Regions from separate parts of the Homo sapiens genome. Here regions 2, 3 and 4 are each reported to be linked to region 1. Evidence: microRNA targets listed by miRTarBase, many of them from high-throughput screens and not tested one by one. Region 1 holds a microRNA gene; each other region holds the end of a gene's coding sequence.

The links. The annotated mature microRNA hsa-miR-18a-3p reads ACUGCCCUAAGUGCUCCUUCUGG and lies in region 1 at 4,325-4,347, shown strand. An mRNA with a match to its seed (bases 2 to 7 or 8) in the 3' UTR can be bound and repressed. Matches are read on the target gene's strand: a 7mer-m8 pairs with bases 2 to 8, a 7mer-A1 pairs with bases 2 to 7 and ends in A, and an 8mer does both.
Region 2: the mRNA of DALRD3 is a reported target of hsa-miR-18a-3p. The part of its 3' UTR that is shown has no 7-base or 8-base seed match.
Region 3: the mRNA of RNF187 is a reported target of hsa-miR-18a-3p. Seed matches in the 3' UTR shown: 7mer-m8 at 3,591-3,597.
Region 4: the mRNA of TXNL4A is a reported target of hsa-miR-18a-3p. Seed matches in the 3' UTR shown: 7mer-A1 at 3,871-3,877 and 7mer-m8 at 3,510-3,516.

The regions. Positions count from the first base shown.
Region 1 is chr13:91,346,473-91,354,469 of GRCh38, forward strand. It overlaps MIR18A (microRNA 18a), which reads left to right and starts at 4,279; the gene lies at 4,279-4,349. MIR17HG (miR-17-92a-1 cluster host gene) reads left to right here and starts at 1,215. Exons shown (of 3, transcript NR_197388.1): 1 at 1,215-1,487; 2 at 3,226-3,298; 3 at 3,684-7,997. MIR17 (microRNA 17) reads left to right here and starts at 4,133; the gene lies at 4,133-4,216. MIR19A (microRNA 19a) reads left to right here and starts at 4,419; the gene lies at 4,419-4,500. It also overlaps MIR20A, MIR19B1 and MIR92A1. RefSeq lists enhancers at 704-783, 2,253-2,800, 2,801-3,348 and silencers at 884-1,663, 1,714-2,703.
Region 2 is chr3:49,012,090-49,015,836 of GRCh38, reverse strand. DALRD3 (DALR anticodon binding domain containing 3) reads left to right here. Exons shown (of 12, transcript NM_001009996.3): 11 at 1-33; 12 at 130-349. The coding sequence ends at 249. WDR6 (WD repeat domain 6) reads right to left here. Exons shown (of 6, transcript NM_018031.6): 2 at 1,721-3,747; 3 at 1,544-1,627; 4 at 1,338-1,454; 5 at 1,119-1,237; 6 at 1-1,012. The coding sequence ends at 549. Among named protein-coding and RNA genes, the nearest start is that of DALRD3, 4.6 kb to the left of the region's middle. RefSeq lists a silencer at 1,483-1,612 and an enhancer at 1,407-2,244.
Region 3 is chr1:228,490,762-228,498,758 of GRCh38, reverse strand. It overlaps RNF187 (ring finger protein 187), which reads right to left. Exons shown (of 4, transcript NM_001010858.3): 3 at 5,485-5,706; 4 at 2,571-4,876. The coding sequence ends at 4,874. Among named protein-coding and RNA genes, the nearest start is that of RNF187, 7.4 kb to the right of the region's middle. RefSeq lists enhancers at 4,940-5,885, 7,957-7,997.
Region 4 is chr18:79,968,833-79,976,829 of GRCh38, forward strand. TXNL4A (thioredoxin like 4A) reads right to left here. Exons shown (of 3, transcript NM_006701.5): 3 at 1,981-5,024. The coding sequence ends at 4,853. It overlaps HSBP1L1 (heat shock factor binding protein 1 like 1), which reads left to right. Exons shown (of 4, transcript NM_001136180.2): 4 at 1,608-1,990. The coding sequence ends at 1,619. Among named protein-coding and RNA genes, the nearest start is that of HSBP1L1, 8.2 kb to the left of the region's middle.

The sequences.
Region 1 (7,997 bases):
GTAAAATTTCAGATTTGGCCTTTTATTTTGATTTACAAAGAAAGGAATATCTAGAAACTAGACTCAATAAAAAAAAGAGTAGCAAAACTTTAATCCACTATTTTTTATGTCATCACTAGTTTGACAATTGGATTTAAGCAAAGCATGATAAAATAAGTCAAAGACAGTAAATGACAATACTGTCAAGGTTTGAATGTCAAAAATTTTAACATTGGGGCATTAAAGACATCCTTTGGTAATGTGTGTTTTACAGTTGACTTGTACAATCACGAACCAGTGATATGTGCTTTGCAGTAGCTACTTACTAGATTTAAACCAATTTATAATTGCTGTATTTCTCGTAAATGTTATGAATCCTCACTTTTAACAATTATGTTTCTGAGAATTCCGGAATTTCCTGAACCACAATGTGAAGAAGGAGGTGCTCCTGATTGGGCTTCTTTTCTCAGCTTTGTGGTTGTTTATGAGGTTCTTTCCGAGCTATGCTATTTCTACTGGAGAACCCAGAGTTCTTACTAAATGCAGCTGGGCATGAGAGGGGAGGCTCAGGTACTGCAGCTGTGAAACCTCTGCTCGGGCATGCGTTTTGGTTTACACGCGGCCAGGTTAAGGAAACACATTGCCACGAAGTGTGCATTCACAAGAGTGTCGGGTGTAATGTATTTATTTCTGGGTCTCAAACGATCTTTGCAGCGAGTAATTCTGTTTCGATGTTAAAGTCACTGGATTTTACTTCTCTGGTTCCGGTTGGCCTGGAGCAGGCCCCTAATTACCTCGGAAACCCACCAAGGGCCGGTAAAGTAATAAACTGTGATCGCACAGCGTACACGTCGAGTCCCAGGGAGAGCAGGGCTCCCAGGAAGCCCCGGGAAGCGTGCGCTTCCAGGAGGGTGTGCGGCGCGCGGGGGTCTGCACGCGCGCAGAGCTTGTTAACGGAGGGCGTGCCGGAGGCGTGGCGCGAGGTGTTCGGGCGAGGCGCTCCGCGAGGCTGGCGGCGGTGGGCGGGCCACGGGGGAGCGCGGCCCGGGGAAGGCTGCGCGGCGCCGCCAGCGGCTCCCGGCTCCCGCTCTCCCGGCCGCCAAGAACGAGCCGCCGTGGGCGGGGCCTGCGGTGATTGGCGGGCGGGCGGGGAGGTCGGAAGTACTTTGTTTTTTATGCTAATGAGGGAGTGGGGCTTGTCCGTATTTACGTTGAGGCGGGAGCCGCCGCCCTTCATTCACCCACATGGTCCTTCGAGGTGCCGCCGCCGCCGCCCGACCTGCGCCTTCGCGCCACTTCGCGCCCTCGGGCGAGGCCGAGGGGGTGGGGACGACTACCGCAGCGCCGCCGGGGCTCGCGCTCCTCCGCGAAGCTCTCCTCGCGGGGCGGGCCGGCCGGCCGCACCCCCGGCCTGGGGCCTCCGGTCGTAGTAAAGCGCAGGCGGGCGGGGAGGCGGGAGCAGGAGCCCGCGGCCGGCCAGCCGAAGATGGTGGCGGCTACTCCTCCTGGTGAGTCTGCCCGCCCCTCCGGCGACGGAGGGAAACCTGTTGTGTGCGGCCCGGGTCTGGCGGGCGGGGCGGAGCGGCCCGGGGCGGACTGGCCCGGGGCAGCGTGGCGGCGGCGGCGTGGCCGGGGCGGGTCTCGGCCGTTGGCCGCCCCGGCGTGTGGCAGCCGCATCTGGCTGCCCCCTCGCTCGCCCGCGGGCCGGCGGAGGGGGGCAGGGCCGGGGCGGGAGGGTGGGAGGGGGCGGCGTGCGCGTGGCGGCCGCGCCCGGGACCCGCGCAGACCCTGCCTGGGCCGACCCGAAGGCGGGTGGGCGGACGGCGAACACAATGGCCCCTCGGGGAGAGGACGTGCGAGGCCCGTGCCTTCTCCGGGGCCCGGGGCGCGCGCGGGGCGTGGGGTCTCTGGGTAGGAAAGTTTCTCCCGAGGGCGAGAGTTAAAGCGCCTCCAGAACAAAGCGGCGGCGGCGGCGGCACATGGGGCAGGCCGCGGGCCGGGAGGGGGCGCGCCCACGAGGTACCTGCGCGCCAGCGGGCGGCGTGGCGTGGGCGGGAGCCCGCGGTTCCCCAAACTTTGTACGCGCGAGGGTGGGCGGAGGGGCGCCGAGATCGGCGCGGCCTGGGCGCCACCCCCGCTCCGCGTGGGCTTTGTTAGCCCGCGTGGGCAGCCTCGGGGCGGGGCCCGCAACTTCCCCGCCGTGGCCCTCGGAGGAGGCCGCAGTCGGCCTCAGCCGCGGCGTGGAGCCGCCTGCGCCCGGCCGCTTGCTGGGAGTGTGGCGCGGGAGGGCCAGCCCGGCTCGGCGGGAGCGGCGTCCCCGCCGCCATGTTCCTGCGGGGCGGGCTGCACGGGGGTGAGGGCGGGGGACATGGCGGCGACTGCGCGCCGCCGCCGATTGTTCCCGGCTTAGGCCTCGGGCCGCGTGCGACGGGCACCGCGGCCGCGGAGCCCCCGCCCCTCTGGGCCGGGCTCGGGGGGGCTGGGGGACACAAAGGAGGGGCGGCGCGCCCGCGTCCCCGCCGCACTCGGGCCTCGGCGCCGCCGGTCGCCGCGCGGCTGCCGCCGGGAAACGGGTTGGGGGGGTTGCCGCGTCCGGCGGGGCCTGACTCTGACCCGCCGCCCCCTGGCGGCTACGCGGAGAATCGCAGGGCCGCGCTCCCCCTTGTGCGACATGTGCTGCCGGCCCGGGCTCCATGAGCGTGGCGGGCACTTTGCAGTCTCGGGTGTTCCTGCCCGGTCTTCTGTTCCTAAACTGCAGCAAAGGGAAAAGGAACTGAAAAAGGCAGGCTCGTCGTTGCAATATCACCAAAAGAGAAAATTAACGGCATGCCATCAGGACCACAGCAGTTGGAGAAACAACTCTTTATCCCGGCTTGCAGCCACGAGGTCTTGATTGGGGGAGGGGTGGTGAAGAATAGTCTGTGGGCTGCTTTTTTTTTTTCCTTTTACTGGAGCTGTACAGTGGAGTCGGTGATTGCTGCTGATCATAATCAAGTATTTTAGGAGCTTATTTAGACATGTATCTGATAGCTAAGGATTTTTCAACTTTATTCTCTTACGTATTTTTCAACTGTAAATTATTGGGCTTTTAAATCCTGCTAGTATTGCTCGACTCTTACTCTCACAAATGGATGGAATTAATTGCTGTTAGGAGGTTGGAAAATAGCAAATATAGATTTGGACGGTGGTAGTAATTTTGAGCAAATAATGTTTTATCTTTTTTTTCCTTATTTTTCCCTATTCCAGTCATACACGTGGACCTAACTGCACCAGTAGCTTTTCTGAGAATACTTGCTGAAAAGGAAGTTTTCTGGAATGGGTAAGTGTATTCTGATTTTCTTGAACTTTTCTTAAAAACAAATTTTTCTTGCTATTAAAGTTGAATAAATAGGATTGGTTTCTTAGAGAGTAAAAGTAGGTGTTTCTTTCTTTAGACAATGTACCTTTTCTGAAAAACTAACTCATTAAGTACGGATTTGCTAATTTTAAGGTAGTAAAATTACAGTGTAAATATTCCTGTACATTTTTGGAAACTGGCTTATGCAGTTTACGAAATATAATTTTAGACCCTCTTTTAAGTTGGGTGATAAAGTAGATATAACCTGAGATGATAGATTTAAACAGGATATTTACGTTCTGCTACAATTGACTGATAACACTTGAAGTGTAGTCTGAACAGTAATTTTGTTAATCATTTCAACAAGTATTTGCTAAGTGGAAGCCAGAAGAGGAGGAAAATGTTTTGCCACGTGGATGTGAAGATTTCCTCTAAAAGGTACACATGGACTAAATTGCCTTTAAATGTTCCAAAATTAGTTCTCATTTATTTGCAGTCTCATTTTGTTTTGTTTTTTTTCTCTATGTGTCAATCCATTTGGGAGAGGCCAGCCATTGGAAGAGCCACCACTTCCAGTGCTAGTTGGATGGTTGGTTATGATTGCCTTCTGTAAAGAATTCTTAAGGCATAAATACGTGTCTAAATGGACCTCATATCTTTGAGATAATTAAACTAATTTTTTCTTCCCCATTAGGGATTATGCTGAATTTGTATGGTTTATAGTTGTTAGAGTTTGAGGTGTTAATTCTAATTATCTATTTCAAATTTAGCAGGAAAAAAGAGAACATCACCTTGTAAAACTGAAGATTGTGACCAGTCAGAATAATGTCAAAGTGCTTACAGTGCAGGTAGTGATATGTGCATCTACTGCAGTGAAGGCACTTGTAGCATTATGGTGACAGCTGCCTCGGGAAGCCAAGTTGGGCTTTAAAGTGCAGGGCCTGCTGATGTTGAGTGCTTTTTGTTCTAAGGTGCATCTAGTGCAGATAGTGAAGTAGATTAGCATCTACTGCCCTAAGTGCTCCTTCTGGCATAAGAAGTTATGTATTCATCCAATAATTCAAGCCAAGCAAGTATATAGGTGTTTTAATAGTTTTTGTTTGCAGTCCTCTGTTAGTTTTGCATAGTTGCACTACAAGAAGAATGTAGTTGTGCAAATCTATGCAAAACTGATGGTGGCCTGCTATTTCCTTCAAATGAATGATTTTTACTAATTTTGTGTACTTTTATTGTGTCGATGTAGAATCTGCCTGGTCTATCTGATGTGACAGCTTCTGTAGCACTAAAGTGCTTATAGTGCAGGTAGTGTTTAGTTATCTACTGCATTATGAGCACTTAAAGTACTGCTAGCTGTAGAACTCCAGCTTCGGCCTGTCGCCCAATCAAACTGTCCTGTTACTGAACACTGTTCTATGGTTAGTTTTGCAGGTTTGCATCCAGCTGTGTGATATTCTGCTGTGCAAATCCATGCAAAACTGACTGTGGTAGTGAAAAGTCTGTAGAAAAGTAAGGGAAACTCAAACCCCTTTCTACACAGGTTGGGATCGGTTGCAATGCTGTGTTTCTGTATGGTATTGCACTTGTCCCGGCCTGTTGAGTTTGGTGGGGATTGTGACCAGAAGATTTTGAAAATTAAATATTACTGAAGATTTCGACTTCCACTGTTAAATGTACAAGATACATGAAATATTAAAGAAAATGTGTAACTTTTTGTGTAAATACATCTTGTCTTGTTTTCATTCAAAAACATTTCACTTTTGGGGTTGCGTGTCAGATTTGGCAGTATAAATTCTGGCTATATTTTTTGTTGTTAGATTTATTTGGCTGTTAAGTATTGCGATATGACTAAACATACTGTATACCTGATGATCATCTGTAAAGTTAGAGTATATCTTTTTGCTTTCTTTGGAGTTAGTGTTATTCCAGGATATTTTACTTAATCTAAAAGTTAATTTATGTTGCTCATATATTACTCAAGTATTTAAATTTAGAGAGAATGCCGCTCTGTTTAAAGCAATGTGTAAAGATGAGTTTTTTTAAGCATGGAATTTAGGGTTGGGGTACAATTTGTTTCTATTAAGCAAGTACCAGTTTACCAATACATGAGTAACTGAAGTGTAACTGTTAAATGCTTGTATACTAGTTTTTCTTTCTGATTGTCAGTGATTTATAAGCTATAAATGACCAAGGTCCTCAGACTGCTTTTAGCATCTGCAACTTAAAAAAATGGGAGTTAGAAAAAGAACAAATGCTAAATAGAGTAACAGTTAAATGTATGTGTACACTCTTCCCAAATGCCAAGAGTGCAGCGGTGGGGTGAGATTCAGATATTCATTTATTTCTAAGTCTGTAGTTAACATTTATGTTCCCTACTCCCTACGTAAGCCAGACTTTGGCAACAGTGATAGTTGATTCCAGGCTTATTTGACTTAAAGTCACTGAAGTGGAAACTAAGAAGTGGCAGTTAGTGTTTTACCCAGCATTTCTGCCTTCTCTCTTTTCTTCATGTGTTTTTGTCTCTAGCCTATGTGTATTTGTGTAGAATAATGTGGGATACCTGAATAATAGATTTAAAAGGACCAAGTGGTAAAATTGGGCCCAAGCTGAAGTACAGGCAAACTTGATGTTTGAAAGATAAGTTTTGAGAAATGTCATTGTATTTTGGAGTAAAAGAGGCTATCTTAGTAATAAGAAATAAACTTCCATAACACTAGGTTAGACCACCCAATAAATCTAGAAATCAGCTTTTAAAAATATTGTCTGAAGTCTAACAAAAGTTTTCACCTCTAATGTGTTCTTTAAGAAATTTAAGGAACTTAGCCTTGGATTCCTGAATAGAAAGGTAAGAATTCTATCATTCTGGAGTTGATGAAAACATAAATTTTCAGGATGTGAAATGAACAGTGATTTATAAAATGGAAATCAAATTGTACATTAGCAGAGTTCTTAAGCTTTTTGAATTGAAGGAGACCTAATAATTGTGTCTTTTTGGTTATTTAGTGACAAACGTGGCTTTCAAACTATGCTTAAAAAGTTCCGGCTGGACACGGTGGCTCACACCTATAATCCTAGCACTTGGGGAGGCTGAGGCAGACGGATTACCTGAGGTCAGGAGTTCGAGACCAACCTGGCCGACATGGTGAAACGCTGTCTCTACTAAAAATATAAAAAATTAGCCGGGTGCAGTGGCGTGCACCTGTAATCCCAGCTACTCTGGAGGCTGAGGCAGGAGAATCACCTGAACCTGGGAGGTGGAGGTTTCAGTGAGCTGAGATCCTGCCACTGCACTCCAGCCTGGGCGCAAGACCAAGACTTAAACGCAAAAAAAAAAAAAAAAAAAAAAAAAAAGTTTCATAATACAGCATGGTCTGGTAGTTTGCAAAATGGTGTGCTTTTGGGGAGATACACTAGCAATTTTTTTAAAAACTGGAACAGTGTGATAGGAAGCCTGCTGGATGATTTCTTAAATATTCTAAAATGTAAGTCAAATATGTTTTAATAACAAAGACTTAAATGGCTTTTCTCCCTAGAGACTGAAACTAGTATTCATTGTGTTCAGAACTTAATTGGGCTTGAACTGAGATTTAAATCTAATAAACAAGTTAATAAATGTGTATGTTTTGTTGTGGGTTTGGTAGTGATCTGTGGTTCTATAGGGTTTAATAGGAATTGCTTTTGATTTGTTTCTGGCTTTAGAATGTGAGGCAAATTTTACATTCTTGGTTCTATTAAGATTTTCTTAGGCATGCTAACATGCCAACAAAAAGCCATGTAAGTATTGTATAAAAAGATTCACATTGTTAATTTAGCCATTTTGAAATTCAGATGAGTGAGCAAGTTGATAATGGCCTCATCTCTGACCTGAGAAAAAACAACTTTGACCCTTGTTCTTAAAATGCTTTAACCTTGAAGTTGCTTGAGACTTAAGAGGTCATGTTGCTTTAGGTTTAATAAATAGCCTTAACTATTTGGAGGGGAAAAAATGGGTCAACTTTTTTTTTTTTTTTTGGCGTTTGCATGTACAACTTTCTATTTTTAGCCTATATTTGGAAAGAAAGCACTTAACATTTTAGGAATTCTTTTTAAAGCTGCTTGCAAAGTGTTGGTGATTTTACTGAAAACTTTTGAGATCTTCATTTTACAGGCAGACCTGTCTAACTACAAGCCAGACTTGGGTTTTCTCCTGTAGTTTGAAGACACACTGACTCCTGACAAAATGCAGCCTGCAACTTCCTGGAGAACAACTCAGTGTCACATTAAAGTTTATTATGTATTTAATGATACACTGTTTAATTGACAGTTTTGCATAGTTTGTCTAACTTTAGAGAATTAAGAGCCTCTCAACTGAGCAGTAAAGGTAAGGAGAGCTCAATCTGCACAGAGCCAGTTTTTAGTGTTTGATGGAAATAAGATCATCATGCCCACTTGAGACTTCAGATTATTCTTTAGCTTAGTGGTTGTATGAGTTACATCTTATTAAAGTCGAAATTAATGTAGTTTTCTGCCTTGATAACATTTCATATGTGGTATTAGTTTTAAAGGGTCATTAGGAAAATGCACATATTCCATGAATTTTAAGACCCATAGAAAAGTTGAAGAATGCTTAATTTTCTTATCCAGTAATGTAAACACAGAGACAGAACATTGAGATGTGCCTAGTTCTGTATTTACAGTTTGGTCT
Region 2 (3,747 bases), not on the chromosome of region 1:
AGCTCCTACTACAACCGGGTACACATCCTGGGGGTGAGCACACAGCAAAATGGGGTGGGACGTGCAGAGAGGTATAGGGTAAAGGCAAAGGAAGCAGAGGATGAGACCAGCAGGCCCTTTCTCTTTCAGGAGCCTCGACCACACCTCTTTGGTCAGATGTTCGTCCGCCTGCAGCTTCTGAGAGCTGTGCGTGAGGTGCTCCATACTGGCCTGGCTATGCTGGGTCTCCCTCCACTGAGCCACATTTAAGGCCACAGAGGCTCCAATACCTGGGAATGTTCACAAAGTCATCAACTGGAAAAAAAGCAAAAACCCACGGCCAAAATAAATTGGTACTGTTTGTTACAAAGTTCTGTCTTGTCATGGGGAGTCGGGCATATTCTTGGCAGCACTCCACTCACCTTCAGCTCCTGCACCGACATCAGGAACCCACGGCCACCACCTCCTCCCCTCAAGGCATGCTGAGCATGGGCACAGACAGCCCATCCCTGCTCCATGCTGTCTGTGAGCAGGCCCCATGCCCAGCACGCCAGCCACCGCAGGATACCTCAGTCATACCAGTTGTAAACCTCAAGCCCCTGACCCCCAAGGGCACAACGGTGGCCAAACTCAGGGCTCACAGGCCAGCAGTCCATGTCAGCCACATCAGGCACATGGAACACAGTGCTATTCATGAAGGTGGGTTCACCATGCCCCAGACGCCAGAAGGTCAGCCGTTGATCAATGGAGGCTGAGACCATGATGCTTGGGCTTAGGATCTTGAGGCCTGTCACATGGGCAGCATGTGCACAGGGGACAGAGTATTCCTCTAGCACACGCAGCTGGGGTACCAGCCCAGCCTCTCCCACAGCCTCTTCTAGCTGTAGCATCTCCACAGCAAGCACGAAGACATGGAGGGATCCATCTTCACTGCCACTGGCCACGAGATGGTGGCCCTCACGGGTGGGCAAGGTGTGCAGGCTGTTGATACCACAGCTGTGGGCCTGGAGAGTCAGGGAGGGGGTGCCAAGCCCTGAAGGAAGAGGAAGAGGGTAGTTGTCAGGGCCCCGCCTGCCACATGTGTGAGGGCTATGTGACAGGTGAGGAGGGGTAGCCATGGTTGCACATTAGCTACTCACGGTAGGGAAGCCCAGGATCCACTGGAGGCTCCAGGACAGTGGAGTCATGGTCTAGCATGGTGGTGAGATCCCAGAAAGCCAGGCTGCCATCAGTAGCTGCGCTGCACAGGAGGAGCCTCCTGAGAGCCAGGAAAAGACAGCCTGGTCAATAACAGAGATGAAGCTCAACAGGAACCCCCCAACCCAGCCCATGCAGGACCATCATCCAGCCCCTCTCACCGCCTCTGGTTGGGTGCCTCGTGTGTAAAGGAGTGGACCTTGAGGACACATCGCTTATGGTGGAAGGTTTCAGCAAGGAGCTGCAGAATCCGCCCAGAATCCTGCAAAAGAAAGAGCCTGGGGGGCGGGGGGTGGCCCAGCTCAGAACGCATCCTAGACAACCTTACTTCCTTTGTCTCCTGTCCCACTGGGCCCTATGCTCTCACCTTACGGCCCCATCACTACAGGCTGCAGCCACAAGGGGGCCAAGGCCGGGCTGGTCAAGTTCACACACAGCAAGGGACATGTACCTGCAGAGACAACATGCAGCTGTCAGGTGGAGCCTGCAAGCCTGGGAGCATCTGCATGACCCATACCACACCCTGCCCAGGAGCATATATTACCTGGTCTCTGGGTCTACCTTAACCATCCGATGCCGATTGCGTTGCCGGTCCCAATACTCATCTAGCCGGTGGGACGAAAGGTGCATGACATGGCAGGCGAGGCGGCTTGGGGTGCTGGGGTCCGGAGTAACCATGATGCTGAAGCAGTGCATCTCAGCCCGCCCCCCCGCAGACACCACATGGGCAGTCAGGCCTGGCTGAGGATCCTGAGGGCCACCTGGGGTGCCAATGCCCCACACAGCCACAGCACGTACCGAGGAGATATGGTTACAAACAGCTGTGAGTGCGTGGGCTGAGCCTGTGGTTGTAGGGAGTGCTAGGACACAGACAGTAGTGTCCTCACTACATGTGATCACAATGTCAGTCAAGTCGGGCCCCTCACTGCCAGGCTCCAGGTCATCAGGCTGCATGAAGCTGGGCACTCCATATTCAGGCCCCAGGGTAATGGTGCCCACACGCTTTACACAAGTGATCTCACGGCCATGCAGACCCTCCCGGAGAATCACGTGTGGCCGGGTGCAGCCACCCAGAGCCCTGTACAGCATGACATCCCCATCCTTGAGGTAAGCAAAGGCCATGGCCGCCTCAGTATCAGAGAATGCCCACGAACGGTGCCCTCCACCACAGTTGACGATGTGCAGCTTCTCGTGTGACCGAGGGTTCCACACCACAAACTCATTGGCATGGAAACCCAGGATAACCATGCTCCCATCGGGCACTATACGGAGCCCAGCTAGCCAGTTCATGCCTCGACAGGACTTCTGCCTTAGGACTGGCTGGAGCTGGCCGTCTCGTACAAACAGCTGGTAGTAGGCTCCATCACGCCCTGTGGTATACACATAGCCACCATGGCATGTGACTGAGGTCACACCCTGCTTCCCGTGCAGAGAGGGCAGGGTAGACACTGGGCCCAACCCAGTGAAAGCATTCCCACCCCCACTACTACCACTACCCACTACAGGTGCCCCAGCACCAGCCCGAGCCTTGCCTCCCACCCCAGGGTCCTTGAGCAGACCTGGTCTGGAGGGGAATAGCAGCACAGAGCCCCGGCGGTCACCACACACCAGGAAGTCACCTGGGGGTAGGAAGGCACTGCATGTGTGCCATCTCTGCTTGCTTGGGGGCAGCAGGTACCGACAACGTTCCTTGACAAAGATGGCCTTGCCAGAGGGTGCGGCTGAGATCTCTAGGCAAGCTACTACCCCGCCAGGGCCCGATGCCAGCAACAGGAGCTCCTCATAACCACGCAGGGCCCAGCTCAAGCTGTGCACCTTCCCAGGAAACAGGGTCTGGTCCACAGCAGCAGTTGGAGTGTTGATGGGGACAACCTTGACACGACCTTCCCCATTGGCCATAGCACACAATCCGAAGCCCTCGGGACCAGGAGCTGCCTCCAGCAGGCAGTAGGACTGGAAATGTTTATCCTCTAGCAGCTGCTCCCAGCACTTGACCTCGACGTCATAGAGATACAGGGCCCCTGTATCAGTCACTGCCAGCAGTCGCCAAGAGCCAGCCAGAGTCACAGCCTTGAGTGTACCTGGCCTACTACGGGACTTGAAGCAGAGAGCCGAGACCCCCAATCCCCGGTACCCACGCCCTACCAAGTGCCACAGCCGAATGCCTGAGTCATCACCCCCAGTGATCACCCAGGCCTGCCTCTCATGGGCAGCTATGGCCCGGATCCCACGTCCCTGGTGTCCCCGAAAGGCCTGGAGGATCTCACCTTCATGGCTCCACACCAAGCAGACACAATCCTCTCCTGCACTGATAAGGTAATTCTCTAGAAGCTTGACCTGCCACACACGGGCGCTGTGCCCAAAGCAGTGCCCAATATTCTGCACCCGACCCCCAGGCACTCGCAGGTCGCCCACCTTCCAGATACGAACGCTTCGGTCTTCTGAAGCTGTAGCCAGCAATCCCTTGCTTTCCAGGTATGACATGCTGAAGATGATGCCCACATGCCCACTGATTCGTCGGTCAGGTGCTACAGGTTTGTTGTCTGCTAAGGCAGTTGCTGGGTACCAGAC
Region 3 (7,997 bases), not on the chromosome of region 1:
TCACCTAATGTGCCATCATCACTCAGACTTCAACATCACCTAGTGCTGCAGTTCCCACCACCCGCCCGAACCACCCCCGCCCCAACCCACCCCGAGCTAAAGCAGTATCTCATTATGGTTTTAATTATGATTCTCCAGTTACTAAATAGTTTAAGCATCTCCTTATATTTTGCTGCTGTCAACCTCATGAAATAATAGCTACTCAGTTAGGTAATGTAGAAGGTAAAATGGCCCCAAGCATTTTTATCTCCTCTCTTTGGCCACAGGATCCTGAAACTGAAAACGACCTTTGGGTCCCAACTATCCACGGCTTTCCCACAAAGCTCTGAAAATAAGAGTTGAGAAAAAAGTATTGAGCTACTGGACAAATACATCAGTGTCTTGAGAATGTGTCCCCTACCTTCCAGCAAACAAACTGTTGCTTTTCTATGCAGTGCCTGGCCTCAGTTTCCTTCCACATGTCACCCACAGCCAGCCTCGGAGATCCTCCTGCCTAGGGCTGCCCTTGACCAGAGAGATCTGGTTGCAGCAAAGCCACAGGGACACCAGTGGCTCCTCAGAGCTTGCGTGGTCAAGGGCTGAGGAAGGGCGTCTGTTTCAAGCCATTTCTATAAAACACCCTGTGGGAGCAGACCTGAAGGAGAGGGGCAACCGCCACACAGGTATGGGGGAGAAATGTTCCCTGGAGATCAGAGGCCGAGGCAGGGCCCACCTGGCTTGCTGAAGAACAGAGAGGCCATCATGCTGGGTCTGCAGGGAGCAGGGGGCACAGTGGTGACGAGAGAGGAAGAGCTCGGGGTGGATTATGTAGCACTTCCCAGGCCACTGCGAAGCTTTCCCGGAATGAATCTGAGTTGCTGCAGGGCCTTGAGTACAGCAGGGGCAGGCTCTTGCTTAGTTTTTATTTTCATTGTTTTAATAAATTTCATTGTGTATATTTAAGGTATGCAACGTGATGTTACAAAGTACAAACAGATAGCAAAATGGTCACTACAGGGGAGCAATTAACATTCCCATCACCTCCCAGAGTCAACCACTTTTAGGATTTTGTGGCAAGAGCAGCTGAAGTCTAGTCATTTAGCAGGAACTCCCAAAACAGTGCAATTTTATTACCTACATTCCTCCTGTTGTACATCGGATCACCAGACTGGTTCATCCTACATATTTTAAAGTAGAAACCCATCTACCTGCTGGGTTGAGAATGCATTGTTGGAGCAGCGGGAGGAGATGAGGTCCCCAGGTCTCCTGGGCAGAAGAGGACAGTGCCAGTGGGCCACGGTGGGGGACTGGCGGGGAGCAGGTAAGATGAGGTCAAGGTCTTTGGCTACAGGAAGAGCCTGCAGGATTCCTTTGCAGACCTATTGTGGACTGTTAGAGAAAACAACTCAGAGACAGCTCTGAGATGTCTGAGGACTGCAGGGATTGGGCCCCTGGGCAAGTCTGGGATGGAGGCAGTGGTTGGACCTGGAAGAGGGTTTGGGAGAGAGACCCACGTCAGAGAGGCAAGTGTGAGGTCACCATGGGGGGCTGGATAGGACAGAGAGGCCACACGAGGATGCCAAGGGTTCTTCCACATGAAGAGGGTGGAGTGGAGAGGACACAAGGGAGACGGAGGAGCATCAGCAAGGCCAGAGAAAGCCCTTGTGGAGGGAATGTCCCTACACAAAAATCCATTCAAAACAGACAAGGGCTTAATTGTAAGGCCTGAAACTGTAAAGCCAGTAGAAGAAAACACAGGTGAAAAACTCCATGACACTGGCCTAGGTTTCAGGGTTGTATCACTTCTTGCATATGACCCTAAAAGCACAAGCAACAAAAGAAAAATAAACATACATGATTGCATAGAGCTAAAAAGCTTCTGCACAGCAAAGGAAATCATAAACAGAGTGAAGACAACTCACAAATTGGGATAGAGTATTTGCAAACCATACATTAAGTAGGGGGTTAATATCCAAAATATACATGGAACTCAAACTCAATAGCAGGAAAGCAAATAAACGACTAAAAAATGAGCAAAGAACCTGAAGAGACACTTCTCAAAAGAAGACATACCAATGGCCAACAGGTATATAAAAAAATGCTCAACATCATTAATCATCAGGGAAACGTAAACCAAATCACAATGAGATTATCTCACACTTCTTAGAATGACTAATTTCAAAGAAAATAAATGTTGGTGAGTATGTAAATTATTATAGCCATTATGGAGAAGCATATGGAGGTTATTCAAAAACTTAAAAAGAGTACCGTGACCCAGCAATCCTACTGCTAAGTATTTTCCCAAAGGAAACGACATGAATATATGGAAGAGATACCCACACTCCTGTGTTTCTTAAGAGCACTTTTACAACAGTCAAGATACGGAATCAACCTACGTGGTCTAGAAGCAAAGTGATAAAGGGATAAAGTGGATAAATGGCTTAAGAAAATGTGGTGTATACACATCATGGAATACTATTTGGCCATAAAAAAGGAAACCCTGCCATTTGCAACATGGGTGAATTTACAGGACATTTATATTAAGTGAAATAAGCCAGGAACAGGACAAATATCACATGATCTCACTTATATGTGGAATCAAAATGTTGATTTATAGAATTAGAGAGTAGAACGGTGGTTAGCAGGGGCTGAGACAAGAGGATTTGGGGAAATTCTAGTCAGAGGGTACAGAGTCCCTGCTATACAAGAATAAACTCAAGGTCTATTGCACAGCATGGTGACTTCAGCTGATAACCGTGTACTGTACGCAGTTGGCCCTCTGTATCTGACTGTCCCACATATGTGCAGAGGGAGGGCTGACTGCAGGGTACTTGAGTATCTGCAGATTTTGGTATCCATGAGGGGGTCCTGGAACCAATCCCCCTTAGGCACAGAGGGATGACTGTATTTGAAATTGCTGAGTGTAGATTTCAAATATTCTCACCACCAAAAAAAACATGAGATGGATACATTAATCTGTCACTCCACAATGTACATAGATATCAAAACATCACACTGTGCCCCATAAATATATAATTTTCTTAAATAGAAAGAGGTTGTGATTGACAGGGTGGGATGTTGCTGGTCAGCTAGGTTAGGTGAGGATGGTGAAGCCACTGTCGGACCTGGTGATGTGGAGACACTGATGTTGTGGGAGACTCTGCCATCAGGACCTGTCCGGGCAAGCATCACAGGTGTGCAGGGCAGGGGCAGGGATGCTCAGGGATGACAGCAGACTGCAGCAGGCGGAGACAGTGAGAAAGACAAACTGGAGGTCTCAGGGTCGGGATGTTGTTGGCGTGCTGACAAAGATTCTCTACTTGGCCAAACTCTGGCCAGGCTCTGGAATCTTCTCCTAGGGCCCTCTTTGCCCTTTCTTATGAAATCCAGTTTTAGCAAGAACCCTAATTTGGTTAACCATAATATCTGACCACCCTCAATGGTACCTGACTGGGTTCCTCTCTGACCGTTTGCAGCCAATGTCTGATCGCCCTGCCTGCCTGCAGCAAGGACTCTGTGAGGTGGGTTTAGCCAGAGCCCCCTCAGCCCTGATGTCTCCTCACAGTCATTCCCACCCATGGACCCTATACTGCTCCTCGCTCCTCCAACCCCTGCCCTGCTACGTCGGGGTGGAGCCCCATCTCCCCCCAGGCCCCAAGGAAAGGGTCCCACACCCATCTCAATGGTCCCAATCAAAGTCCTCCTCACCATGCTTTAGCACGTGTCACGAGGAAGTTTCCTTTGACACTGGAGGGTGGCCAGGGCAGGGGGAAGAGGCCAGGTGGACACACGGAGACGAAGCAAACGAGCTGACACAAACCCACTTTATTCAGCATTGAGCCAGCCCACACGCTGGGCAGGTCAAACTCACAGACATCGCACCAAGGGCCGGGGACTCAGAAGGGCTGAAAGGCTTCATCTGGAAATGGGCACCGCTCACAAGCCCGGCTATCCCCAAATCTCAACAACTGTCTGCATCTATGTCCCCGACTTTGCAATCCTGTCCCCAGTGCTGAGTTTCTGTCGACTAATTTATCTACACACAAGGATGCTGCAGGCAACTGAGCTACTGCTACAAGCTTTGCAAAATTCAACTACTAAAGGAAATGGGAGGAGGGAAAGAGCTAGAGATAACAGCAAGATGAGACACGATGGCAGGGCCTGGAGATGCTAAATGGGGTTAGCCACCTGCCAGCCCCCTCACCCAGGGAAACAGAGAAAGAGGCTTCCTTCTGCGGAGGCAGGTGGAGCACAGGGAGGGCTCCTGGGAGGCACAGGAGTGGGGTGGGGGCCAGGAAGGGGGAGGTGGACAGAGCGACTTGGATAAGGCTGGGCCGGGCCCACGCCCACCTCAAGAGGGGGGCCGCCTCCTCAGGAGGCATCAAGGTGCAATCCAGTCTTCCTTTCTCTCCCTGAAGACCTGAGTTCCAGCCTTCACAGAGCGTCATGCGCATTCTTCTTTCTGGATGCTAACCCCAAATCCGACACTCAATGGTGCACCTCAGGTACCTGCCAAGGATCTGTGGGCCCACATGGAAGGTGCAGGGTCTGGGTCCCTGGATGACGAGGTGAGGGGCAGATGGGTGACCAGGGAAGGGCATGACCCAGAGCTGCCGGGACTCATGGAGGATGGGCTGTGGCTAGGACTTCAGGAAGGGACGGGCACAGGTGGGAAGGGTCCTCAGGTCCAGCCTCTACCGGGAGGTGTTTGCAGCCCCCAAAACACGCCTCGGGGTGAAGGATAAATGGACATTGTTGAAACACGCAACTATGTAGATGGACCCAAGGCCAGGCGCCTGCCACGCTTCCCTGGCAGCCACACGCTGACACTTCCCATGGAGATGAGGATCCATCCTCCTGCCTCCAGCTCTGGGACTGCCACGGGTTGGCGCCATCACTGCATGGGAGGGGAGAGGGAAAGACAGAGAGACAAAAAGAGAAAGAGACACACAGAGTCAGAGACAGAGGCAAAAGGAGAGAGCGAAAGAGAGAGCGCACATGAGACAGCGCATGAGGTACTGTCCTGAGCACAACAAACCCAGGGCCTGGCCCAGACTTCCGTCTCCCCAGGGCCAAAGCCTTGTCACCTATGGCTGGCACGGGCAACTGAACCGTTCAGGGCCATCTGGGTTGCTGCAGGGTCTGGGGTTCAGGCCAGGCCCTGGGCAGAGGCAGAAGAAAAGCCCTGAGGTTGGGTTTCTTGGCTGCTTCTGCCTTCAGGACCCCAGGGCGAGGCAGGAGCCTTCCATGCTCGGGCACTCGGGATGCCAAGTGCCCTCCTTTGTGAAGGTCAGGGACACCTCAGACCCTCCTCAACTTAAAACCCCTTCCCATCACCTTCCCTGACCACCCACCCATTCCCGAAATTCAGCCCTGCAAGGCCACGGCAGTGGGAGTCAGGCTGGGCTTTTAAGCCTTGACTTCGGGCAATGGTCCCCCAATGGCTCGCTGCTGCCTGCGTCCACCCTGGCCCGATGGTGGGCAGACCCAGCGGGGCTCCCGCACCTGCAGCAGCATGCTGAGGCCCAGGTTGCGATGCTTCTTCTCCAGCTCCGAGACCGCCTGCAGCAGTGACCTGAACCGCTCAGTGGGGTCAGCCAGCTCGTCCTCAGGGAGCCCCTCCTCCTTCTCAGCCTCCTGCAGGAAATGCTCCTCCTCCTCCACAAAGAAGGCCCGCAGCTTCTTGTAGTCGGTCAGTGCCTTCTTCCTACGGTCCATCACGTGTCCCTGCAAACGGGTGGCAGGAAAAGACCTGTGTCCTCACCCACCCTCCCCAGGGGAAGGGGAACCTGTTTGCTCTTGAAGGAGTTAAGAACATGCCACTCCAAAACATGCTGCTCAGGCACATCGACTATTAGGCCAGGCACAGTGGCTCACGCTTGTAATCCCAGCACTCCAGGAGGCCAAGGCGGGCGGATCATGAGGTCAGGAGTTCAAGACCAGCCTGACCAACATGGTGAAACCCCGTCTCTACTAAAAATACAAAAATGAGCCAGGCGTGGTGGCACGCCTGTAATCCCAGCTAATCGGGAGGCTGAGGCAGGTGAATCACTTGAATCCAGGAGGCGGAGGTTGCAGTGAGCCCGAGTTCATGCTACTGCACTCCAGCCTGGGCGACAGAGCGAGACTCCATCTCAAAAAAAAAAAAAAAAAAAAAAAAAGCCAGGCACGGGGGCTCACGCCTATAATCCCAGCACTTTGGGAGGCTGAGGCAGACAGAACATGAGGTCCGGAGATTAAGACCATCCTGGCCAACCTGCTGAAACCCCATCTCTACTACAAATATAAAAATTAGCTGGGCGTGGTGGCGCACGCCTGTAGTCCCAGCTACTTGGGAGGCTGAAGCAGGAGAATCGCTTGAACCTGGGAGGCAGAGGTTGCGGTGAGCCAAAAAAAAACAAAAAACAAAAAAAAAAACAATAACAGAAGAGGCCTGGCACGGTGCCTCATGCCTGTAATCACAGTACTTTGGGAGGCTGAGGTGGGAGGATTGCTTGAGCCCAGGAGTTCGAGACTAGCCTGGGCAACAGTGAAAACCTGTCTCTACTAAAAATCAAAAACATTAGCCAGGCATAGTGGTGCACACCTATGGTCCCAGCAACTCGGGAGGCTGAGGTAAGACGATCGCTTGAGCCCAGGAGTTTGAGGCTGCAGTGAGCTATGACCATACCACTGCACTCCAGCCTGGGCCAACAGAGCAAGGCCTTTTTTAAAAAAAATCAAAAAACAGTGCAAGATCACCCTGACCTCCATTCTGCTTCTTAAAAGCAAATGAAATTCCCAAGTGAAAGACGCCCTCCCCATATCAAATAAAATGATTTTATCATCAAGGACGACAGGAAGTCAAGGCCGACAGAATTTGGTACAGACCTTGTGAAAACAACTCTTTCAAGCATCCCCACATCATGTAGTTGCTTTTTTACAAGTGGCTAGTCTTTGTCCAAGTCAGTATATAAGTGATTTAATTTTGCCACTTTGAGTCTTCATTTCATTATAAGGGAGCCTGTGCTGTATAAAACTTGTGTTAAATTAATATGCCTGGCTGGACACGGTGGCTCACACCTGTAATCCCAGCACTTTGGGAGGCCGAGGTGGTTGGATCACTTGAGGTCAGGAGTTCAAGACCAGCCTGGCCAACATGGTGAAACCCCATCTCCACTAAAAATACAAGATTAGCCAGGCGTGGTGGTGCACACCTGTAGTCGCAGTTACTCGGGAGGCTGAGGCAGGAGAACCACTTGAACCAAGGAGGTGGAGGATGCAGTGAGGCAAGATCGCACCACTGCACTCCAGCCTGGGCAACAGAGCAAGACTCCATCTCAAAAAAAAAAAATCCTATGTTTTTTCTCCCATTAACCCATCTCCCTTTATTTTTTTTTTTTTTTTTTTTTTGAGATAGGGCCTCACTCTGTCACCCATGTTGGAGTGCAGTGGTGCCATCACAGTTCACTGCAGCCTCAACCTCTTGGGCTTAAGTGATCCTCCCACCTCAGCCTCCCAAGTAGCTGGGACCACAGATGCAACACCATACCTGGCTAATTTATTAATTTTTGTACAGATGGTGGTCTCACTATGTTACCCAGGCTGGTCTCGAACTCCTAGCCTCAAGCAATCCTCCTACACCTCAGCCTCCCAAGTTGCTGGGATTACAGGCATGAACCACTGCACCTGACCCTGTTAGTTTAGCTTATGTCAGTTTAATTCTCCCGCCCAGCCTGGGGCCCTAAAAGGGGAGAAATAGAGTTCTTTCTCCCCTACACTGCAGTGCTCAGCTGCACAGGAAGACTGTCCCTCTCCCATCTCCCATGGCCAAGGGGACAGTAAATCCTTGAGTGGCCCTGCTAGGTCTAGAGCCTGTCAGGCACGTGACTGTCAGGGCAGGACACACACCCATCTTGCCAGCAACTGTCCCTGCTGTGCCCACACCAGAACTCCAATGGCTGAAAACCATCCCATCAGCCTTCAACAAACAGCATTCACACTTGCCACTCTTCAGCTGGTTTTCAGCCAACTCCTAA
Region 4 (7,997 bases), not on the chromosome of region 1:
CACAAAAGAATGCTAGGATCAGAGGCATGTTTAAAGCCATTAGTAAAAATAACAGAAAAAATGATTCAGAAGCCAGGCGCGGTGGCTCAGCCTGTAATCCCAGCACTTTGGGAGGCCGAGGTGGGCGGATCACGAGGTCAGGAGATCGAGACCATCCTGTGAATGGTGAAAGCCCGTCTCTACTAAAAATACAAAAAAAAAAAAAAAATAGCCGGGTGTGGTGGCGGGCGCCTGTGGTCCCAGCTACTTGGGAGGCTGAGGCGGGAGAATGCCGTGAACCCGGGAGGCAGAGCTTGCAGTGAGCCGAGACTGTGCCACGGCACTCCAGCCTGGGCGACAGAGCGAGACAACATGAAAGAAAAGAAAGGAAAGAAAGAAAGAAAGAAAGAAAGAGGAGAGAGAGGAGAGAGAGGAGAGGAGAGAGAGAGAGGGAGGGAGGGAGGGAGGGAGGGAGGGAGGGAGGGAGAGAGAGAGAGAAAGGAAAGAAAGAAAGAAAGAAAAAGAAAGAAAGAAAGAAAGAAAGAAAGAAAGAAAGAAAGAAAGAAAGAAAGAAAGAAAGAAAAAAAAACGATGCAGAATAGCGCCCACGTTGAGCAGGTCCTCCCACCTGTGCCCACGCGGATGCTTCCCCAGGGATCCTCTGAACCTCCAGGTCAGAAAGCTGGTGAGCCGTGAATTCACCCTGCATTTTAATTTTTGGGTGTGGTCTGTTCAGGTAGGCAGAGATGGCAGTGCTCTGATTCTGCTGGTGGACTGAAGTCCTCATCCCTTCTCTGCGTGCGCTCAGAGCAGAGGCAGTCTTCCCCCAGACACCTAACCAAGTTTCCTGCAGACACACTGGCATCATAACCTTCAGACGTTTATTCTGAAAGTCTTAAAGCAGTATGTCAGTGGCCCCATACTCTGTAGCCTTCTGCCCCTTGCTTTTTTGTTCAGTACTGAGATTCATGTCGACACGTGTCGCTCTAGGTCAGTCGCCAACTGCTGCCTGATAGTCCTCTGATGATTTACTTTATATTTGACTAATATTGTTTCCAAACAATGCTGCACTATTCTTGTCTACTTCTTTGTGTACACGTTGCCAGTTTCTCTAGGGGACTTGGTTATTCTGTACCTAGGGGCTTGTCACCTGCATTAGCTGCCACAAGTAATTTCTGGACTTTGCCTAGAAGCCATCCTGGGGAGATGGGAAATAGAATTCACTAGGTACCCAGAGAGCCACTAGTATATCCAACTTGATTAAAGCACCACAGTGCCACAGACGAGGCAAGGCTTGGCAGCCATGCAGGCCTAGGTTTCAAATTCTTATCCTCTGTTGCTGGCTGTAACCTGGGGAAATCTAAGCTTTAGTTTTCTTCTCTGCCAAATATCTACCTGGTAAGTGGTTGTAAGGATTTAAGAAAATTGCTTGCAAAGCACTTAAGTCAGGGCAAGGTAGACAGCAGGTACATAATGAGATAAACTTGAAATACAGAGTCCAAATCATTATGATTTCAACTGTACTGCAGCCACAAAGCACCAGTGAGAACGTTATTAAAATCAGGGGTGAACATACTTAATACACCTGATAGGAGTTACGGCCTGAACGTTTATGTCTCCCTAAATAGCTGAAGACCTAACTGCAGCATGTCTGTATTTGGAGATGGGGCCTCTACAGAAGTCATTAAGGTTACATCGGTCCTGAGGGTGGGGCCCTCATCCAACAGGATTCGTCTTTCTGAGAAGAGACGCAAGGGGCTCGCCTGCTCTCCCCTCCGTGCCTGCACCAGAGAAGGAGGCCATCGGCAAGCCAAGGAGAGCCCTCCCCAGAAATCACACGGACCAGCACCTTGATCTGGGACTTCCAGAAAACAGAACTGTGAAAAGACAAGTTTCTGTTGTTTAAACCACCCAATCTGAAGTATTTTGTTATGGCAGTCCTGGGCAGACTAATACAATATGCAACACATTTACAATAAATATACAATAAACTTACAAATGTGGAATGTAATTATTTTATCTTTTTCTGGTAACGCCAGTAAAGCTGTTATCCTAAGAGACATAATTCACACATCATCCACCAATTATGCAATTGACAGAATTGTACCATTATCACAATCTTAGGGCACTTTTTCTGTTTATGCCTGCTCGGCTTATGTAAGCACATTTTCATTACATCAAAAATAAAACTGCCCATTAGCTGTCACCTCCTATTTCCCCCTCCCTCCCAGTCTTAAGCAACCACTAATCCGTCTCTATGGATGTGCCTATTCTAGAAATTCCGTATAAATGGAATCACACAATATGTAGTAACTGGCTTTTCACTTACAGTACTTCATTCTGTTTATGACTGAATAATATTCCGTTCTATGGATGGACATTTTGTTTAACCGTTCATCTGTTGATGGACACGTGGGTTTCCACATTTTGGCTTCTGTGTACGAGTTTCTATGTGGACATATGCGTTCAATTCTCCTGGGTATGAAACTGCTGGGTCAAATGGTAACACCATGTTTATCTTTTTTTATTTTTTTGAGACAGGGTCTTGCTCAGTTGCCCAGGCTGGAGTGCAGTGGCACAACCATGGCTTACTGCAGCCTTGACCTCTGGGGCTTAAGTGATCCTCCTGCCTCAGCCCGCCGAGTAGCTGGGCCCACAGGCACGCACCACCATGCCCAGCTAATTGTTCTGTATTTTTTGTAGAGACAGGGTCTCACCAGGTTGCCCAGGCTGGTCGTGAACTCCTGGGCTCAAGCAATCTGCCTGTCTCAGCCTTCCAAAGTGCTGGGATTACAGGCTTGAGACACCTGCACCCGGCCCATGTTTAACTTTTTGACGACCTGCCTGCCTGTGTTACCACTTTGCCACCAGCAGTGTGTGAGGGCTCCAATTTCTCCACATCCTTGCAAACGCTTGTTGCGATCTTTTTGTATCTAGCCGAACTTGTAGGTGTGAAGTGGCGTCTCACTGTGGTTTTGATTTGCACCTTCCTTAACAAGCAGTGATGCTGAGTGTCTCTTCGTGTGCTTCCTGGCCGTCTGTTTCACCTGCTCTGGAGAAATAGCAGGAGTGTAATACTGAGTGTCTGTTACATGCCAGGTACTCGAGGTCACATACACGTTCTCCCTAGCCCCTCATTCCGATACGCTGTTGCACTCTCCTACTTTATACATAGAAAAATCAGCACTTGGGAGATTAAACTGCAGATTTGCATTTGAATTTTAAATCCATTTAAAAAGCACACACTCATTTGTACTGTATGTAAAAAATGTGCTTCATTCTGTAAGTACCCTCCCGTTTCCACAACAGCAATCAATCTCCCGACAGCAGCGAGCCCTGTGCACCACTCCTGTGCCCGGCAGGCACCACGTGCTTCTGCGTCCACATCTGTGTGCAGGGCAGACACTATTATCCGCCTTTACCAAGGAGGAAACAAAGCTCAGAGAAGGTACCCTGCCCAAGGTCACTTGGTGGGGCAGAGCCTGGGTCTGAGGTCAGAGGGCCCACGGTGTGCTCAAGTGCCCCCATCCCTGCCCTTCCTCACTTTCACTTCAGAGCTCGAGTGTGCTGAGACGGGACACGAAGATCCCAACCAACCATCCACACTGCTAGGATGACAGAGGGCAAGAGAAACCTGAGACTGTAATAAGGACATTTTCTTTTCTTTTTTTGAGACGGAGTCTTGCTCTGTTGCCCAGGCTGGAGTGCAGTGGTGTGATCTCGGCTCACTGAAACCTCCACCTCCCGGGTTCAAGCAATTCTCCTGCCTCAGCCTTCCAAGTAGCTGGGATTACAGGCACGCGCCACCATGCCCAGCTAATTTTTGTATTTTTAGTAGAGACGGGATTTCACCATGTTGGCCAGGCTGGTCTCGAACACCTGACTTCGTGATCTGCCCACCTCGGCCTCCCAAAGTGCTGGGATTACAGGTGTGAGCCACCGTGCCTGGCCAATAAGGAAATTTTCTAACTATATGAACTGAAGGGCCATGGCTTCTACAGAAAATATGTTTACATCAAATACAATCTTGGGAAGAATAAAAAATAGCTCTCCTATTCCTTACAGGGAAGGCTATAAACAATATTTTATTGTACTGTTTTTATAACCAGAGTAAACCTTTGGATTCTGTCATGGATTGAATTGTGTAACCGCAAAATTTATATATTGAAGTCCTAACCCCCAGCACCTCAGACTGTGACTTTTGTGGACATAAGATCCTTGCAAATGTAATTAGTTAAGATTAGGCCATGCTGGAGCAGGGTGGGCCCCAATCCAACACAGCTGGTGTCACTACGAAAAGGGGAAATTTTGGACACCAGCACCCACACAGGGAGGACACAGGTGAAGGCAGAGATGGGGCGAAGTATCCACACACCAAGGAACTGAAAATACCACCAGCAGCCCCCAGAAGCCAGGGACAGGCCTGAGCAGATTCCCCTCACGGCCTCAGCAGTGACCCCCCACCCGCGACACCCTGATCTCAGACCCCCGCCTGCAAAGCTGTGAGAGCACACATCTCTGTTAAAGCCCAGCTCGCGGCATATGCTGTCACCGCAGCCCCAGCAAACCAACCCAGTATGCAAAACGCACAGGCTCACAGGATAAACACCTTCGTTTTACTCCAAGGGTAAGAATTAACTTTGACTAGGAAAATCAGTAATCTATTCATTAAGTTTCCTGAGAACAAACAAGTAGGCCTGCTCCTCTCACCACGTGCTTGTTTATTTCGGTGAGTTAAGACCATGTTATCAATTCCATCTCAGAGGTGCTCCAGCCCTGGAGCTTCCTGTATTTTCCAAAGGCTTTAAATAGCTTAAAACGTTTCCATACAAAAAGGGCTCCACGACATTTATCCGCGCAGACTGAGGGCGCCTCAGTAGCGGTACTTGGTGGAGTAGTCCTTGGGGGACACCACCAGGCCGCGGCCTTTGCGGGCCCCGCGGTACACCGTCTCGATGATGTCCACCATCTCCTGCTTGTCCTCCATGGCCCAGTTAATCTTGTTGTTGTTGCCAGTCCCCAAGTCAATCATGATGTGCTTGTTCCTGCAACGAGAAACAAGGGCATCCATTCTCATAGAAGTCTCTTTAAAAAAGAATTCCTTGAAAACAATGCCGTATTTTTCCCACTGTGACAAGCTCTTGTTAACATCACTGAAGAACGCATAAAATCGAGAGTGTATGCCATGATGCAGGAGAATACAGGAAGCAGCTAAATGTGTTTTTAAAGATGCAATGCATTGTCCACCATGCTCTTTCCTGCATTTTTCTGTATTTATTTAGGACAGTTATTCTAAGGGGAAATTAAAAGGTCAAAGGAGGGCAGGCGCAGTGGCTCATGCCTGTAATCCCAACTCTATGGGAGGCTGAGGCAGGAGGATCACTTGAGGCCCGGAGTCCGAGATCAACATGGATAACAAAATGAGACCCCCATCTAATTTGTACTAATTTACCTGATAAAAGCAATGTGTAAGTTTTTCACAGTGCTCTTATGAGCAATGACATAAATTGTATTAAAAGCCCTTCAACTATGAAATGAAGATGACATTTTGCATGTTTATGGTTAGGGAAGTAGATAATTCTTTACTTATCTTTCAAGAGACTAGTTCTTTTCCTCATGAATACTCATGTGCACTTTACAAGATAAGGATATTAACCCTTTGTTGTACTGGCATAAATTTATCCTGGTTTGTTGAAGTTTCTTTTTGAGATGGGGTCTCACTGTCATCTAGGCTAGGGCATAGTGGCAAAATCAACCTCCTGGCCCAAATGATCCTCCCACCTCAGCCCTCTAAGTAACTGGGACCACAGGCACGAGCCACCACACCCAGATAAATTTCTAGTTTTTTGTAAAGATGGGGTGTCCCCATGTTGGCCAGGCTGGTCTCAAACTCATGGCCTCAAGTGATCCTCCCACCTCGGCCTCCCAAAGTGCTGGGATTACAAACGTGAGCCACTGTGCCGGCCTGATTATTTTTCTTAGAGATGCGAGCTATGTTGCTAAGGCCGGACTCAAACCCCTAGCTCCAGTCCCACCCCGGCCTGCAGAGTGGCTGGGCTGCAGGCATACCCCACCTAAAGACTGTTTTTTAACGTTCACTTCCACAAGATCATGCATTTGGCTTCCACCTACTATTCCGTAGAAAGTATTCCCCGTGAAGTCTCTGGTTCAGGAGAGGCAAATCTGATCAGGGTCTGGAGCCCACCTCTGGCCGCCCTCTCATTCTCCATGCTGCAGGCAGGCCCTACATGCAGCATGCACCAAGCTCCTTCTACAATGACTGGGGGCTGCCCGTAGCACCCTCCCTGCAGCCCTATCTGACCTGGGTGTACTTCTTCGGTATTTATATCTCATAAACATCTGCCTCCTTTCACTTCTTCAGAACCCCCTGCTAATTTACTCAGCTGTTTCTATCAGACAACGTCCTATGAGAGTGGGAATCCTGTCTTATCTGACATTAGGCTCCACCACTAGACCACAAACCTGGTGGGGGCTCAAGATATATGTTTGGTGCATAAGTTAACTAAAGTACCGTTTGTCTTAAAATTCTAAATCACAGAAACAGCAGAAGGAAGTTTCATCTCCTTTTCTGAGTACAGCATCAGTCCTAAAAATATCAAACTACACTAAGTAGGCTGCTCCCGCCACCCAAGGCTGTTGCCTGCAGCCTCCTTGCCCCTCACAGCATCTCCAGCCCCAGGCTGGCCTCCACTGCACGCTGTGGGGGGCAGAGACCTAAGACGGCCCTCCCTGTTCTCACCTGAAGAATTCTGAGGGGCAAAATAGAAAAGGCCTCTATTGCCTCGAACAGGCTGTTAACAGAAATATGGACTTCAGGAACACCTGGTGTGGGCTTGGAAGGAAGTGAGGAGTGTGTTACTGGGAAACGGAGAAAAGGGGACCCCCGTTACAGAGTGGCCGAGGAACAGGGACACGGGGTCCGCAGTTATAGGAAGTCAGAGCTCAAAAGCAACACACTCGGGATATTTAGCTGCGGAAACTTCCAAGCAAAGTCTCGGAGGTGCTGCCTTCAAGAGAGGAAAGAGGCAAATTAGTGTAAGAACTGTTAACAAAAGGAATAAATTCTTTAGCCTCTCCGGATGGCCAAAGGGGCTGAAATTCAGAAATGGCTGCTGAACACACAGTAGAGAAAAGGATGAGGGTCAGCCACGCAACCTTTGCTGAAACCTAGGAAAGATGAAAAGTTCACAAGAAATGCAGGGTGCACCTCACAGATCTTCTCAACCTAACAGGAGGCACCTAGGAAGCCAAGGGCGTGTCCAGGGGAGCGTATCCCGACGCCCAGAACCACGGCAGTGCCTCACGCTTTGGCAGCCTGAGGCGGGAGGATGGCTCGAAGCCAGGAGTTCAAGCTTGCTGTGATGGTGCCACTGCACTCCACCCTGGGTGAGAGTGAGACTCCATCTCAATAAATAAATAAAACAAGGTCACTATCCTGGATTATTTGGGCAAGTCTAATCTTATCACAGTCCTCTAAAACCAGAGCATTTTCTCAGGCAGAACTTTTCAGGTCAGAGAACCTGTGTGAAAAGTTCTCAATGTGCCGGCATGCCAGTGCTGGCTTTGAGGGTAACTGGGTCTCTGGCAGCAGAGTGGCCTCAGGTAACAGCAGCAAGGAAGCAGATCTCAGACCCACCACCACGAAGAGCCAGACTCGGCCCACAACCCAAACAAGCCCCTCAAACACTCCAGATAAGCACCCAGCCCATGGTTCAGACCTTGTGAGACCCTGAGCAGGAATCCAGCGGGCCCTGCCTGGATGTCTGACTTACAGAACTGTGAGCTCAGAAAAGCGGGGTGATTTAAGCTGCTCAATGCGTGCTAATTTGTTACAAAGAATACAAAACTAACGCATACCCTATACAACCCACCTGACCTTCCTTACCGAGTAGGAGGCTCCACTTTTGGAGAATGGTCTAATGCTCATGTAGCTAATTCACCAACCTCTATGGTAACTAAACAAGTAAAAACAGCATCAGATGGTGATTTCTTTCCCC